Regions from separate parts of the Homo sapiens genome. Here region 2 is linked to region 1. The links come from fine-mapping of genetic effects on plasma protein levels. A gene starts in region 1. The other region holds a variant in brackets. All regions are shown on one strand. Distances are between the middles of the regions.

Region 1 (5,398 bases):
AGGAGGAGGGTGGCAGGCCCCTTCCCCAGTACCTTGGCTGGTGAGGAGGCCGCCGGGCTCCGGGTCCAGAAGCTCTGGCCGGCTGTTGTTCTGAGCCATCTGCCGGTCTGCTGGTTTCACTGCTGGTTGACAAAGAGGGCAGTGTTCAGGACGAGGAGTGTGCCTGATGAGGCCTCGCCCCTCCCAAGCACCAAGTTCTTTTTCTCAGAAGCACTTCTGGAGATTAAGCAGGGGCAAAGAGCAGGGCCCTAGATATACCTCTGGAATCTGGAGTGAGGTCATTGAGCTGAAGGTTGGACGGGAGGGACATGTTCTCCCGTGGCAGGCGCACGTTGTTGAGTTTTAGGTTGTTGGAGTCACTACAGGGAGGACAAAGTTCGGGATGGATATGAGTCCCGGCACAGGCACTCATGGCTGCCTCTACCAGAAACCCCAGGCTCCCTCCTGTCCCCATCCTGCATTTCGGTTAGGCTTGTCCACCCAGCCCAAGGAAGAGTTACCTTGATATCAGAGATGGGTGCCGGGAGGGGCCTGTGGAGAAAGAAACCATGTCCCTAATTCTCAGTGTGCCCTCCCACGCTGGGCTGTCCTACCCTTTCAGACCCAGGACCCTCAGGCAAGGGGTCTCTCAAATGCCCAGGCCTGGCCCTGGGGCCAGAGACTGGGTTCCCAGTGCTTGACCCTGCTACCTGGGATGCATGTCACCGTACCCATGGCCACCCCCTGGAAGTGCTCTGCCACCGTCAGAGATGACTGGTTCTGCCCAGCTGCACTTGCTGTCTTGGCTGCTGCTCAGCCTGACCTCATCCACACTGCCCCCAGTGTCCCTGGCCTACCTTTGGTTTTCTTCTCTTTTCTGCAGACCAGGCAGGCCACCAAGGTGCTGAACCCCACGAGGGTGCCCAGTGCAAGCCCAGCAGCCACAACAATGCCCAGCAGTGGCACTTCCACCCGGGTAGCCAGAAGCCCTGGAGGATGTCCTCTGTGTCAGGTCCCAAGTGGGTAGTGCCCCAGCCCCAACATGCCATAGGTACTACTCTGCCCTCCTTGCCCAGGGTGGCTGGGGACAGTTCATCCACAAGACCCAACCACAGGGCAACAAGTATTCCCATTTCTGTATGGGGACGGGACCCCTGAGCCCACCTGAAGCTTTGCAGGGCCGCTTGCTGGCCATGCTCACCTGGGGCTGGAAGCGACGCACTGGTGACACCCACGTCATTGGTGGCCACCACCGAGAGGTTGTGTGCCAGGCTGCGGAGCTGCAGCTGCACCGTGTGGTTGGTGAGCCAGGGGTAGTTCTGCGCATCCAGCACCAGGAAGTCAGAGGTGTTGACAGTCACTGGCCCATCCTGGTCGATCCAGGTGACATTGGCCGGCGGGTTGGCACGCACCAGGGCAAACAGGACAACCAGGAGGCCTGGGCCCTGAGCTTCCTGGTACTTGGCGCCGACTTGGGCAATCTCTGGCTTGACTGGTACAAAGCAGAGGCCAATATGCTCTCACCACAGCCCCTCATACTTCTAGCCCTTTCTTCCCAAACCCAGATGGGAGCCAGGGGCCTGGGCCTCTCCTCAGAGGGGATGCTGAGGAACAGGATGGCTGGGTCTGCCAGAGAGGCAGCATTTCGGAGTGATTATGAGTGTAAATACTAGAGCCAAATGCCCAGATGTGAATCCTGGCTCTGCTTCTTACCAGCGGGATCATCACCCTGGGCAGATTGCTTACCTCTTTCTGCCTCAGTTTTCTTATTTGTAAAATGGTGACGACAATAGTAATGACCTCATGGGGTTACTCAGAGGATCAAATGAGTTCATATTTGCAAAGTGCTTAAGTGTCTGCTAAATGTCCTGCGGACCACCTGCCTGGTGGGTGCTGGGGGTCCCTGGGCAAAGAACCTATCTCCCTGCCCACCTCAGGGCCACTCACATTGCACATTAAGGATGACAGAGGCGTTGGCTGATCGGCCACTTCTGGGGTCCTGCAGAGAGCAGTTGAGCTCATGCTGGGCCCGATGGGCAGTGACAGTGAAGGTGCTGGTGCCTCCAGAGAAGGCCTCCCCTCCCACGCTCAGCAGTCTTGAGGTGCTGGCCTCCTGCAGCTGTCCATCCAGATACCAGGCCAATCTGGGGGTGCCAGGCCCCCCTGCCACCCGGCAGGTGAAGGCGTGGCGTTCATTCTCCCGAAGTGCCCGCTCAGCCCAGGTCTGACCATCTATTTGTGGCTCCAACTCCCCCCAACCTGGAACACAGCAGGAGGCCTCTGGGAAGGGCTCAGGCACGGTTGGTACTGTGCTGTGACCAGGAATTGGCCCAGTGAGAAGAGCAGCAGGCCAAAGGAAAGGGCACCTGAGTCCTCTCACCAGGGACTGGCTGGTTGGACCTAGGGTAGGTGGGTGAAGGGGACAGGGACTCCAGGGCTTGGGGCCTGGAGTGGGTACCCAAACAGAAGTGCAGACAGGGGAGAGAGGGGGCTTTGGAACCCAGAAGGACTTGGTCAACGACTGAACAGGGGTGTACCTGAGCTCAGAAGGGCTGGCAGGAGCAGCAGTGTGTGCCGGAGGGCGGCTGGGCCTGGAGGCAGCGCCATGGTGGCCCGGGCCTAGGCCCTAGGCTGCTGAGAGAAGGGGGCGGGCCTGTCAGCCAGGTGACAGCAGGCAGGCCTAGCAATTGCTCCAGGAATTTACTCTCCAGAAACAAAAAGAACCATGTACGGAAACGCAAATGTAGACCAGCCCCCAGTGGCGAAGGCACGGACACGAACGGCAAAGCCCAAAGGCACAGACCCACCCAGCAGACACATGGACATCCTGCAGGCGCAGAAGCGAGCACTGACTCCAGGCTACAATACAAAGAGGCACACACCCGCAGATACGCAGAAGCAACGAGCATCCGTGCAACCACACCTTGCACACACGCACACTCACACACATACTCCACGCGCCCCTCCCCCAAAGGGATCGCCTTTCTCCTAATCCTATTCTCTCTCCTGCCCTGTTCCCATCCTCTCTCCTGCCCTGTTCTCTCTCCCATCCCTCGCCCTACGCCCCCTTTCCTGATGTTGGTGGCTCCGGTGGATGTCGGCGGAAGAGGAGAGGGTCGGAGGGTGGGGTCGCCGAGCATCCCGCCCCCGCCCCCCGCCACCGGGGCGGCTCACCTGGCTCCCTCCCCGAGCGCCGCCGGAGCAACTGCTCAGGTCTGATGAGCACCGCAGTCCGCTGCAGGGGCGGGGGCTGCGCCAGGCGGGGCCAATCGATGCCCGACCACGGGCCCGAGGGGCCCTTACCCGGCAGGTGGGCGGCCGCGGCTCACCACCCCCCGGCTGGTCCCCAGCCCGCGCCGAGTACCCCCGAGTGCCCTTCTCTCCGGGCGCGGGCAGGACGCAGGAGCAGGCGGAGTCGGTGAGGCCCGACGGCTTTATTGGTTCAGGGCCCAGTCCCGTCCCCTCGCCCGCGGACGCCCGGGTCCGCGGCGCTCAGCGGCTGTCACGGGGGCGGCGCAGCTGCCCCATCATGTCGGCCAGCATGCGGTTGCACAGCGCGGCGTAGGGGTTGAGCAGCACCAGCTGGCGCCGCGCGAAGGGGCTGCCCAGCCGTGCCGCCCTCTCGAAGTCCCTGCGGGCGTCGTCGTCTCGGCCCTGCAGCCGCGCCAGGAGTCCGCGCTGCACAAAGCTCTGGCGGGCGGCGCGGCCCCGGCCGCCGCTCAGCTCCACCGCGCGTTCCAGATCCTCCAGGGCGCCTGCGGGACCGACGAGACGGGCGGGGCGGGGGTCAGCGGAGGCCAGGGCGGCCTTGCCCGAGCCCCAGCCCACCTGCGGCCGCGCGGATCACCGTGGTTCTTGCGGCTCCCGGGCGTGGCCATTTACAACCCGCCTCGCACCTGCTAGAGGTACGGATCGTTATTCCCATTACACAGATGAAGACTGTGGAAGAGTTAAGCTCTACAGCCAAGCCACTTAGTGGCAGAGCTGGGACTGAAGTCCAGGTCTCGCCTTGTTCCTATTATTTTCCACCGCTAATACACGAAAACATGAACGTTGCAGGATTCTGAATGGCCACTATGTTTATGAGTCTGGCCCACTGCCCGGGCAAGTAGCAGCCAATTTATTCCACACCTGTTATTAAGCATCCACTATGTGCCAGGTGACTGACTCTGAATGTCAGGGTTCAAAAAATAATATTAACCGCACAATCATTTCTTACAAGTACAATCAAGACAGTTTCTCATTGTTTTCCTTTTGAGGGCCGTTTTCTCTTTTCCATTGCTTTCTTTAGAACACCTTCTCTCTCCCCTGTATCCTGGACTGATTGCCTTTCATCATTCTTTGGTTATCTCCATGTATCTAATTTCCTTGGTCCTGGAGCCAGAGCTGGCCTGCACCATTTTTATTGTTATTATTCTCATAAAATACTTGGGTTGGGCCTCAGAACTCTGAACTCAGAACTTCAGGCAGCCAGCCACCTTCTTAAAGTCCACCAGGCTGGCTTCTTTCGGGCTCTGCTTCAATTCACTCATGTTCTCTAGTCCCCCAAAGAGCCTGAGCCTCCGGAGAAGCGCTCAGAATGCAGTACTCCTTGGTTTCCCTCGGAGGAGCTGGTCTGGAGGAATCTCCAGTTGGAATCACCACTGCATCTCTCTGGGGTTTTGGTCTGCAGGCTGTCTCCAGTGATCTGGGGCAGATAAGCCTGGATAAGGGGCTCCTGGGAGGTTCCCATTGTTCCTGGAGTGGACTCAAAACTCCCTAGCCTGGCATTGCTGGTTCTGGGAGCACCTGTGTCACCACTGCTCCTAACAGTCAAGTAGTACTAGGTTTCCGTGGTTTATACCTTCACATTAGCCTCATCTTTGGTCCCCAGCATGGTCCCATTGTCTTCACTTAATTAGAATAACCTGAATGCAGCAGGAGTTTTGGACCTCTACAGACTGTACCTTCTCCACCCACCAACTAACTCCCACTCATCCTTCAAAACTCGCCCTTCAGGAACAGGTCCCACGCTGACCCCTCTCGAACTTGTTTTGCTGGTCTCAGAATTATGTGTCTGCCCTGCCTCCTGGACTGGGAGCTTTTCGAGGAGCAGTATCATGTGGGGATTAAGAGCACACACTCGAGCCCTACCACCTGGTTGACATCCCAGCTCTGCTGCTGCCTGACTGTATGATAGTGGGCAAGTTACTTAGCCTCTTCATGCTTCAGTTTCTTCATCTATAAACTGGGGATAACAATAGTACATACTTTTTAGGGTTGTTGTGAGGATTGATTTACTAGTTTGTATGTAAAGTGATTAATGCCTGGTACATAGTGACTGCTATATAAATGTTGGTGATCCATATACCTTTTATCTCAGTGTCCTCAGCACCAGCCTACTGCCACATAGTAGGCTCTCATTAACTGTTCCTTAATC
Region 2 (2,880 bases), 98 kb before region 1:
CTTGAGATTTTCCTCATCTGAGCGCTCCATACTCTCCCATAGGCGTTGGGTGGCAACGCCAGGCTCCTCGCTGCTCCGCCCAGAGGCCCCTGCAAGGCCTCGTGAGGGCCTCCGGCCTGCCAGTGCCAATGCTGCGGTGGCCTCCCCAATGCTGGGAAGCTCCCCAGCCTCAGGTCCCCCATCAGCCCGGCTGTATTCGGCACACAGGTTCAGGATGGTCTCCAGGCGCTGGCGTTCCTGGGGAGGATGGACAGAGCAGGACATGAAGGGGAGGAAGCTGAGCCCTGGTGGGGATAGAGCCAGGTTCAGTATCCTGTCAGGAGGGAGAGCAGGGTTACAGGGGGCTAGGACATCAGTGTCAAGTCAGGAGAGGCCTGACCCCAAGACCTAGGGGAGGCAGAGGGAAACAAGGTGCCCCAGAAGTGGGCAGGAAGAACGAGGCTGTTGTGCCACATGCCCACATGGCATAACAGCCTGGTTCTTCCTGCCCACTTCTGGGACAGCCCCTTCCATCTTCCTGTTCCTTTCTTTTTTCAGTCTACCCCAGGACACACAGGAACACACCAAATGGACCCACAGTAACACACTAAACACATACAGAAACACACTGTTAAGCAGACTACAGACCACAATGAGACACAGATAAACTCAGTTGCTCGTCCTGACGCAGGTACACACAGATCTACAGACACAAGGACACATACTGACACACCAGCACTGATGCACAGGCACACAAGGATACAACATGTGCCCTGGCCCTGCATTAATAGGCAAGTACAGAGACACCAGCCCTGACATGCACAAATGCACACTGATGCACACTCACAGATAAACACAGTCTAGCATACAGACAGGTGGGCATGTATGCAGACAGACAGTGCTGGAAAACAGACCCATGAGCCCACAGGGACCAGACACCCAACCACAGACATACATGGAGAAGAGGTAGACCAAGGACACGGCCCTCTTTGTCCCCACCTCAGCTCCAAGTTACCCTCAGGCAGCCCTTGGCTGTTTATCAGCAGGATGGGCTGCTGCCAGTCCTTGAATGCCCAGGCCCATGAGTGAGTACTCCCATGGCCCTACCACTTCATCCACCCCTCTCCACATACACACCCACCCAGATACAGTCACCTCTCAGGGGCCTAGGAGGTAAAGGAGGGATGACACAATCACATTCCTGGTCTTTGTTGCCTT[T/C]TCCCGCAGGCCTACCTATAGGCCTGAAGCCTGGTTTGTGAGGCTTCCATGGCTCTCTAGGGTCCCTAGACCTCCTCAAGTGTCTCTCATCACTTACAGTTTGGCCATGAACCCAAACCGCAGGAAGTGGAGAGAAGGCTGGAGAGGTGTTCTCATACACTTACCCAGCTTCCCTCCTGTTGCTTGCCCAGTTCCATGGCAAAAAAAAAAAAAAAAAACCGGAACAGAGCCTCGGCACCTGGGAGGCTGGGCCAGTGCCTCCACCCCTGCCCCAGGACCCAGATAAGCAGCCTGGTTGAGGTGGGAGGGGCAGGGCGGGCAGCCTCCAAGACTTAAAGTGGCAGGTGAGGCAGGTCAGGACTAGTGGTAAGATGTGTGCTTATGTGTGGGAATGGGGGTGGGAAAACTGATGGAGGAGTTGGGGGAGGCTGTGCCTGCCACTCTGCCTGTGCCAGGCTCACTGCCCCCTCTCCAGGATGAGACCCCAGCTTAGAATGGCCATGCATTCCCGTCTAGACCAATGCAAAAACAGTGAAGAGAAGATGCAGCAAAGGAAAAGATGGGATCCGCCTCATCTCACCCCCATCCAACACAAACACACAATCCTATACCCTCATCCAAAACTGTCCCAACCTCTTCCAAAAGCATCTCCAGATGCTTCAGTTCTGGTTCTCATCAGTTCTGGTTCTCTTCCTCAAACCAATCCCAGGGTTCCTGCCCACCTTCCAAAGAACCCTGTTCTGCTCGTAAGGGACAGAGGGCAGAATCCATTCTTCTGTACATGGGCTCGACTGTGTACACACCAGCCAGAGCCCCTTAAGCTCCCTGAGCTATCTGGGGAATCCTGGCCCCCACCCAGCTCAGATGCCATCTCCAGGACAGCTGCCTAGAGCCACACCCAGCCCCTGCATGCACCCACGTGCATGCACATGGACACACACAGTCACAATTACACAGGCTGGCTAACGGTCAGGCCAGGGTTGCCTATCCTGCTCTGTCCCTCTACCCTGCCACCTGCACTCCTAGATGATACTGCCTGGGCCAGGATGAGCAGCTCCCACCCACTTGTAGAGGCCAAAGACAAGCAAAAAAGAAGGACAAGGTACTTTTCTAAAGAACAAGTCTCAGAAAGAGTCAGACAGGGGACCTGGGTTCCAATTCTAGCTCTGCCAGAACTTGCTGTGTGACCTTGGACAAAGCCATTCCCCTCTCTGAGCTTCAGCCTACTCATGATCACCAACTGCTTCTCAAACTGGGAGGTTCGAGGTCTTACCATACCTGTGGTATGTTTTCCTAGAGCTTCACTGTGCTCAGGTAAACAATGTGAAATTTAATTTAACATTAAAACAAATGCTATGTTGAATAAATGCAAAATTAGCAAGAATTTAAAATAAAGTCTTAGAGATTTCAAAGGAATTTCTTCTTCACGGCACCAGAACCATAAGATATTGATCACTAAAGTGTATCCTGGAGGTGGGGAACCTTGAGAAGCCGAAGCCCTGTTTGAGGGCCTCTCCTGCTCTGCCAGCTGGCCTGCTCGAGCCCTGGCAGAGACTCTGCCATGGACAGTGGCAAGCCTCCCTGGCACCCGCTCACCAGCCTCTCCATCTCCTGCTCCCGGAGCCGCTCTTGGCGCTGTCGCCGGTGGTACTCCAGGAGGTCGTCCTCATTGTCACTGATCTC

Direction of the effects. Alleles are on the strand shown, and positions count from the first base shown. The strength of an association depends on the size of the effect and on how common the allele is.
In carriers of allele T in region 2, the plasma level of the protein whose gene starts at base 3,196 in region 1 tends to be lower than with C alone (strong association).

The links. PIP is the posterior inclusion probability: the model's chance that the variant is causal. Protein levels are from antibody-based Olink assays in UK Biobank. Linkage for the fine-mapping came from a reference panel and not from the study's own genotypes, which makes the PIPs less certain.
Region 2: its variant is fine-mapped to the plasma level of the TMEM25 protein (UK Biobank, PIP above 0.99).

What each region holds. Positions count from the first base shown.
Region 1 is chr11:118,528,990-118,534,387 of GRCh38, reverse strand. It overlaps TMEM25 (transmembrane protein 25), which reads right to left and starts at 3,196. Exons shown (of 9, transcript NM_032780.4): 1 at 3,154-3,196; 2 at 2,517-2,613; 3 at 1,927-2,238; 4 at 1,181-1,471; 5 at 837-968; 6 at 501-531; 7 at 259-359; 8 at 33-122. The coding sequence starts at 2,586. TTC36 (tetratricopeptide repeat domain 36) reads right to left here. Exons shown (of 3, transcript NM_001080441.4): 3 at 3,395-3,734. The coding sequence ends at 3,472. TTC36-AS1 (TTC36 and KMT2A antisense RNA 1) reads left to right here and starts at 3,613. Exons shown (of 3, transcript NR_120574.1): 1 at 3,613-3,884. RefSeq lists silencers at 2,949-3,048, 3,079-3,518, 3,639-3,918, 4,440-4,734.
Region 2 is chr11:118,628,564-118,631,443 of GRCh38, reverse strand. PHLDB1 (pleckstrin homology like domain family B member 1) reads right to left here. Exons shown (of 23, transcript NM_001144758.3): 6 at 2,794-2,880; 7 at 1-237. Among named protein-coding and RNA genes, the nearest start is that of MIR6716, 14 kb to the left of the region's middle. RefSeq lists enhancers at 1-108, 109-617. The variant T/C (reference allele first, on the strand shown) is at 1,198.